2 linked regions of the Homo sapiens genome follow. The protein of the gene in region 1 purifies or fractionates together with the protein of each later gene. This does not show direct contact. Each region holds a gene or a part of one and is shown in the gene's direction. Other genes may lie near its edges. The genes, in order: RCBTB1 and HERC3.

Region 1 (3,823 bases):
GAGTATGTCTCCAGCATCTGGATTCCTAACCTTTAAACTGGCTTTCATTCACATTCACCCTTTCCTCCTCCTCTTGTGGAAGGAAGAAAAGGAAGACTTGCTCCTTTCTACAGTTTCTCTTGCATTTATTTATTTATTTATTTATTTAGAGACAGAATTTTGCTTTTGTTGCCCAGGCTGGAGTGCAGTGGTGTGATCTTGGCTCACTGCAACCTCCGTCTCCCGAGTTCAAGCGATTCTCCTGCCTCAGGGTCCTGAGTAGCTGCGATTACAGGCACCCACCACTATGCCCAGCTAATTTTTGTATTTTTAATAGAGATGGGGTTTCACCATGTTGGCCAGGCCGGTCTCGAACTCCTGACATCAGATGATCCACCTGCCTCGGCCTCCCAAAGTGCTGGGATTACAGGCATGAGCCACTGCGCCCGGCGCTTCTGTTGCACTTCTGCTTCAGATCCCATTCCCTGCTACTTTCTTAAGGCCCATTGAGTTGTTACATCCTCTCCTCTTTGATGTTTCTACTGGCTCCTTCCCATTAATTCAAACATGTTCAAGCCTCTAACAATGTTTACATTAAAAAGGTTAACAGAAAACGTCCTGCAACTCTATCACATTCTGTGATTACTATGCGATTTCTCATTTTTCCTTCAGAGTGAAATTTCTTGAACAAGTTGTTTATACTCATGGTTTCCTTTTCTTCACCTTTCACATACGCCTCAACCTGCTGCAACCTGGCCTCTTCCACCCACAACCTCAGTGAAACTGTTCTTGTTAAGGTCACTGATAATTCTCCTTGTTAAATCCAATGGAAGTTTCTCCACCCTTCCCTCGTTTGGTGTCTCAGCAGCATTCGACACTAGCATGCCTCTTGCCTGTGATGCTCAAGTCCCCAGATCTCTGTGACACTCTGTCTCCTGGTTTTCCTCCTGGTCTACCTCTTCCTTCACAGTCCCTTCTAGGGGGTACTCCCTGTCCCTTTCCCGTTGGAGTTTCTTAGAGTTCTTCTTAAGGTACTCTGCTCTCCTTATTTCACTTGCTTTTTTCCTGGGTGATTTCATGCCAGATTTCCAAATCTCCAATCCAGACCTTTCTTGAGCTTCAGATTTCTAAATCCATCTGTTGGGACTTGTCCACTTTAATATCCCACAGGTACCTGGCACAAATGTCCATAGTAGGACTCATCACCCCTGAGGCCTGCTGTGCTTTCTGCTGTAGTGAGTGGCAGCACAGTTCTCTCTCACTCAAGCTCAGCGTCTGCCTGTGATCTTCGGCTCTGCCTTTCTGCTTATCCAGTGCTCCTTGTCCCATTCAGCCAGTTGCAGAATCTTCTTGATTTTCCTTCTTGTTCAATTTTCTCCATTTCCCTAGTGTGGGCTTCAATCCCTTCTTTTCTGGCTTACCATAGCCATCTGGACTTCCTCTAAGCACTCCTTTGTCGTCTCATGTCTCTGTGGTCAGCCAAAGTAATCTTTCATAGACCTACATCTGTTTATGCCACTTCCCTGCTTAAGACCCTTCAGGGATTACCTGGTGCTCTTAGGATAAAGCCTGAGTTGTTTGGCTGCAGCCATGCTGACTTTCTTTCAGTTCCTCCACCAGAGCCTTACCTGGCATGAGTGCTCACTGTTGCAGGCGCCTGCTTCTCTTTAGGTAGCTGAAGCATACTTCCCAATTCTGTTGCCTCCACAGCATCTGACCAGCCACACTGTTGTGAGCATCTGTTTATGTGTCTAGATCCCCCAACCCCATGTAATTTCTGTTGGTGTTGGCTCTGTGTCCTGTTTACCTAAGAAAATTTATTGAATTAATAGTGTATGGTTCTGCCAGTCCATTGCTGGAATTTCAGTTTGGCTTTAGGTCATTGCAGGGTACAGTTGATACTTTTCATACAACTGGGGACTAATAGATGAAATCACTTTTGGGGTATCCACATGAGAAAGATTCATGAAACCATATTTAGATTTGAATTTGACCCACCAATTCCAGCCTTGAATTCATTTGGAAAATAAAATGAAGTATTATGTTTTATCCATTTCTTTTTTCTTTTTCAGACAGGATCTTGCTCTCTTGCCCAGACTGGAATACAGTGGTGTGAACACGGCTCACTGCAGCCTCAACCTCCTGGACTCAGGTGATCCTCCCACCTCAGCCTCTTGAGTAGCTGGGACTAACTACAGGCGCACACCATTATGACTGGCTAATCTTTTTATTTTTAAGGAAATGGAGTCTCGCCATGTTGCCCAGGCTGGTCTTGAACTCCTGGGTTCAAGTGATCCTCCTGCCTTCGCCTCCTAAAATGCTGGGATTACAGGTGTGAGCCACTTCACCCAGCCATCTATCCATTTCTTTAAACTTTGACCCATCATTGGTTTTTTTGTTCTGTTTTGTGACACCTGTTTGTTTGGTTTAACAAAGAACAAACTTACAGAAAAAACATTATTTCTAATCATCGATATTTCTTTTCTGGTTTCCTTTTGAAAACAACAGTATCCTATAAAAGCAATACTTTTATAAGATCTCAGTCAGCTGCACAACCCTAGATATGTTATTTTTTTCACTGCTAATGCTATTGCCACTTGGTTCGTTTGCTTTTCGAGCACATGGCTGAGGTTAGAAGTGAGACGAGATGAAATGAATGAGATGAAAGCAGCCCCTTGGATGATGGGGCTAAAGAAATGCTTACAGAGGCCATTATTGCAAATTGTGCTTCAAGTCAAATAACTTATTAGTGGTTGGGAAATGACAGTTGTAGGAACTTACATTTTCCTCTAAAATTAGTGATGAATTTGAACAAAACTTATGAAACAAAGGGTAGGCACAATCAGAGAATTCTAAAACACTAGTCATACTGTTCTCTAAATGAAGGTGGGGGTATTATCTTCACTCACCTGTACAGGTGGCTTCAGCTTGAAGGATGACAAACTACTTTGGGAGAAGGCTACATTCTCAGACTCCTTAGTCAAGCATTCAGGGCATTCTTCCTTTCCCTTTCATTCTTTTTTTTTTTTTTTCTGAGACAAGTCTCGATCTGTCACCCAAACTGGAGTGCAGTGGCACCATCTCGGTTCACTGCAAGCTGTGCCTCCTGGGCTCACGCCATTCTCCTGCCTCAGCCTCCAGAGTAGCTGGGACTACAGGCGCCCACTACCAGGCCCGGCTAATTTTTTTGTATTTTTAGTAGAGACGGGGTTTCGCTGTGTTAGCCAGGATGGTCTTGATCTCCTGACCTCGTGATCCGCCTGCCTCGGCCTCCCAAAGTGCTGGGATTACAGGTGTGAGCCACCACGCCCGGCCTCCCTTTCATTCTTGTAGTACTGTGTGTTTGCAGAAGAGAGACGTGGATGACAGCTGTTCTAGCAGCTGGGGCAATAACATATTAGTGTCTCAGCACATCTTCGAAACTTTGCCTGTGATTTGCAGCCCTTATACCATAGAGTGGGTGAAATGGTTTTAAGTTTTATTTTTATTTAAAAATGTTTGAGGCTGATTCTTAGAGGCTTATCTGGACCTGGGAAATACATTTGGTATCTCAATGAGACAGCATTTGCTCAGTCTCAAAAAGCCCATCAGAATTATATGTAAGAAATTGGTAAGAGTAACATTTGGCTGTTTGTACCTTGAGAGGGTTTTTGAATTGCTTTTGCTGTAGCATAGATGGAAGACATTAAGTTGTAATGTTGTATACCAAAGTTTACCCCAAACCGTAGAGCTCTCTTATTTGAATGTTTTTCTGGAATTAAATGGATTCAGAAATAAAGATTGTCATACCCTTCAATCTTTTGTGCTCAAATGGAACATTTATTGCTAAAAAAGGAAGAAGGCT
Region 2 (3,823 bases), on another chromosome or scaffold:
ATTATTTTTTATTTTACTTTTTATTATTGGGTAGTATTCCCATTTGTGGTGTTTGCAGTTTTTCATAATTGTGAATAATGCTGTGATCATTCATCTACAGGTTTCTCTATGAGCATGGACTTTTATTTCTCTTGGGTAGACACCTAGCAGTGGGATTGCTGGGTCATACAGTAAATGTACGCTTAACTTCATAAGAAGCTGCCACACTGTTTCCCAAAGTGGCTTTAATCTGTTTAGTGTTGCTAAAAAGGAAGACCGGAGGCTGCTAGCTAAAAGGTTCAAGATTGGGCATGTAGATGGTGAGAGTCTCAGGCTGCTTCCTGAGACTGTTGAGCTATTTCTACCAATAGTCCCTTAAGTGAAATCTAGGTTTTTCTATCAAGCTCCTCAAAACTCTTTCAGGCTCTACCTATTTCCTCATTTCAAAGGCACATCTGCGTTTTTAGGTATTTGCTGTTGTAGTACTGTACTTCTTAGTACCGAAATCTATATGTCAGTGTTCTCCAGAGAAACAGAACCAACAGGGTGTGAAGCCGAGGGGGGTGGGGGCAAGGAGGGATTTATTTTAAAGAATTGGTTCATGTGATTGTGGGGGCTGTCAAACCCGAAATCTGCAGGGTAGGCTGTAAGGCTAGAAATTCTGGCAATAGTTAATATTTAAATCTTGAGTCCAAAGACAGTCTGGAGGGAGAATTCTTTCCTCTTTGGAGGACCTCAAGTCTTTTTCTCTTAAGGCCTTCAGCTGATTGGATATGGCCTACCCACATTATGGAGGGTAACCTGCTTTACTCAAAGTCAATGAATTTAAATGTTCATCCCAACTAAAAAAATATCTTAACAACATCCAGACTGGTGTTTGACCAAACAACTGGATGCCATAGCCTAGCCAAGTTGACCTATAAAATTAACCATCACAGTCTGTAATAAAAATTGTTGTGATGGTGTTTCTCTTGGGTAATTGTATCAGAAAAATGTCATTAGTTTAGTGTCATGGGTTTCAGAGAAGTGAGGTGTTATATACGGTGTGAGAAACTTTCAGCATCAATGATTAACATGCACAATAATCTTTTTACATTAGTGGCTTTATTTTAAAGATTGCACAGTTATACCATTTTAAAAATGGGAAAAGGGAGGCTTACTAGTTAGATACAGAAGATGGCAGAGCCTGGATTTGAACCCCTGTCTGCCTCACTTATCCACTGTATTACACCATTTGTTGGCTAGTTATTGGTGTGGATGGTGAACATGTAAAAACTATCTGCTTGGAGGAAACCCAATAATTCAAATGTAGCTTTATGAAGTATTAAATTACAGTGATGGATAAGTAGTAAATAACTATCTTCATGATGTGAAGTTTTAAAATTGTTTTTAATCTAAAATACAAAAAGTTAATGTGACAAACATTTGTATATATGATCCACAGTCAACAGGTATTTGCTTCAGATTTTTTAATAAAAGAAAAAAATTACTGATACCGCTGTACATACCCTTAATTCCAAATTACTGATACTGTTGTACATACCCTTAATTCCATTCCCCTCTTCCCGCCCTTCTTTCTTACACAGACAAAACTCTTATGAATTTGATATGTTTTTTTTATGTTTTTATACTTTTTATAATAAACATGTATGTTAAAACAGATTTTTTTTTTTTTTTTTGAGATAGGGTCTTGCTTTGTCACCCGGGCTGAAGTACAGTGGCGTGATCATGGCTCACTGCAGCCTTGACCTCCTGGGCTCAGGTGATTCTCCCACCTCAGCCTTCTGAGCAGCTGGGACTACAGGCATGCACCACCAGGCCTGGCTAATTTTTTGTGGAGACTGGGTCTTGCCATGTTGCCCAGGCTGGTTTTGAATTCTGGGCTGAAGCCATCTGCCTGCCTCAGCCTCCCAAAGTGCTGGGATTATAGGCATGAGCCACTGCACCTGGCTAGACAAAGATCTTTTTACATTAATGTCTTTGTTTTTAAAAATGAACACTTACACATCTTATGTATGCATCATATTTATAATTTCATACTCATAAGCAAAATCTCATATCCATAAACAATATGATAATACTAGTTAATACTTACAAAGTAATTGTTATACACCAGCCTTGGTTTAAGCACTCTTACATGTATTCACTCATTTAATCCTAAAGCAGTCCCATGTGTTATCTACTCTTACTCTCCCCCATTTTACAAATGAGGACACAGGCATGGAGAAGTTAAATAACTTGCCCAAGGGTCACAAGCTCTGAGTGACAGAGCTACTACCTTTTATAAGTAGCATTGTTTTAAGTGTTAAAACACAACTTACATAAATGCCATCATATTTTACTGAACATGCAAATACTTGATTTTCACTCAGCATTGTTCTTGAGATTCTATTCATTTTGCTAAGTTTAGATCTAGTTAATTCCATCAAAGTGCTCTGCTTTATGGTTTCCATCATATGACTCTACCATCTTTTCCTTGTCCATGTTCATATTAATGGATGTTTAGTGTTGTTTCTCTAAATTCTCTATATTGCAAGAAAATGCTGCAGTAAACTTGCCTGCACTCATCTTCTTGTGCACACATGTTAGCGTCTCTGCATTACCTACCCGCTAGCACAGTGGCATGGTCAAGGGTATTTACATTTTCAACTTATCTAGATATTGACAGAATTTCCCCCCAAAATGTTTATGTCTAGGTTCACAGTTTATATTTCCACTTGTGAGAGACTGAATATTCCTATGGACAATGGCCAGGCCATATATAAATAAACATGGAGCTGAGACCCACAATCTGCAGCAACCTGCCCGGGAAACCAACCTCTTATCTGCAATAAGCAGCCCAGGAAGCCAGCCTGCTATAAGTCAGACTTGCAGGCAGCCTGATTGCCATCTGTCTCGATAACTTCTGTAACAGTGGGCCCAAATAGGCCAGGATGTGATTAATAATCAGCAGCTTCCCTAATTTTTGTTCCTACTTCCAACTTAGGGCCAACCAGAGAAAGCCAAATACACACCCTTAACCAGTCACATAGGATGCCCCACTTCTAGTTAGCCCACCTGCAGCTTCCCCAGACTAGCAGCCTCCAATCAGAGTGTACCTGAAGCCTTCCCTCTTTCCACTGTAAAGCTTTTCCACTCCTCTGCTTGATTTTGAGTCTCTGCCACAACACAAGTGACAGTGGCTGACTCTCTTGCTATAGCAGCTCTGAAAAAATAGCCTTTGCTCTTCTCATTTGGTTGATCTTTATATATTTCCATGGTTGCGATATGGTTCCCATCATTTCAGTTTATCTTCCTACCAACTGCCTATGAGGTTTCTGTTTTCCCCACACCTTCACCATATTGATATAATCTCATTTTTAAACTTAGGCCAGTCTGATGAGTGCAAATGACAATTCACTCGTCTTCATTTGCATTTGCCTGATTATTAGTGAGATGGAGCCTTTATTTGAGATGGTTCTTCCCAGAGGTAAAGGTTTTATAAACAAGGAGTTATAAAATGAACCTTTTAAAACAGGTGAGGATACAAGTATCAAGTGGTTTAGCTTTATTTGTTTCTGAGGAAAATGGCCTAGAACTGTTATCCTAGACTTTTTATTTTAAGCAGAAAAGGTCTTATTATTTTTTCCACACTAAATTTTAAGCAGGGCTTTTAACATGAAAACTGGAATACCTCAGGTAAAGCCAGTAGTTTAGTTCTATATACCTGGCCTGCTGCCCTTCCTATCTGGCTTATCCTGCCTTGGATCACCTGAGGCACTTGGTGGAATGTTAGGGCTGGGGATGGAGAGGGAGGAGAGGAGAGCTGGTAACCTATATGATGCCTTAGGATGCCTCCTGATTT

Evidence for each region.
Region 2: the proteins of RCBTB1 (region 1) and HERC3 purify together in Homo sapiens (affinity purification with mass spectrometry, with the first as the bait; one large-scale study listed by BioGRID). This does not show direct contact.

Annotation. Positions count from the first base shown.
Region 1 is NC_000013.11:49,578,813-49,582,635, reverse strand, and holds part of RCBTB1 (RCC1 and BTB domain-containing protein 1), read left to right. Parts: intron 1-2,051; 5' UTR 2,052-2,131; intron 2,132-3,823. UniProt on the Homo sapiens protein: May be involved in cell cycle regulation by chromatin remodeling.
Region 2 is NC_000004.12:88,700,163-88,703,985, forward strand, and holds part of HERC3 (probable E3 ubiquitin-protein ligase HERC3), read left to right. Parts: intron 1-3,823. UniProt on the Homo sapiens protein: E3 ubiquitin-protein ligase which accepts ubiquitin from an E2 ubiquitin-conjugating enzyme in the form of a thioester and then directly transfers the ubiquitin to targeted substrates.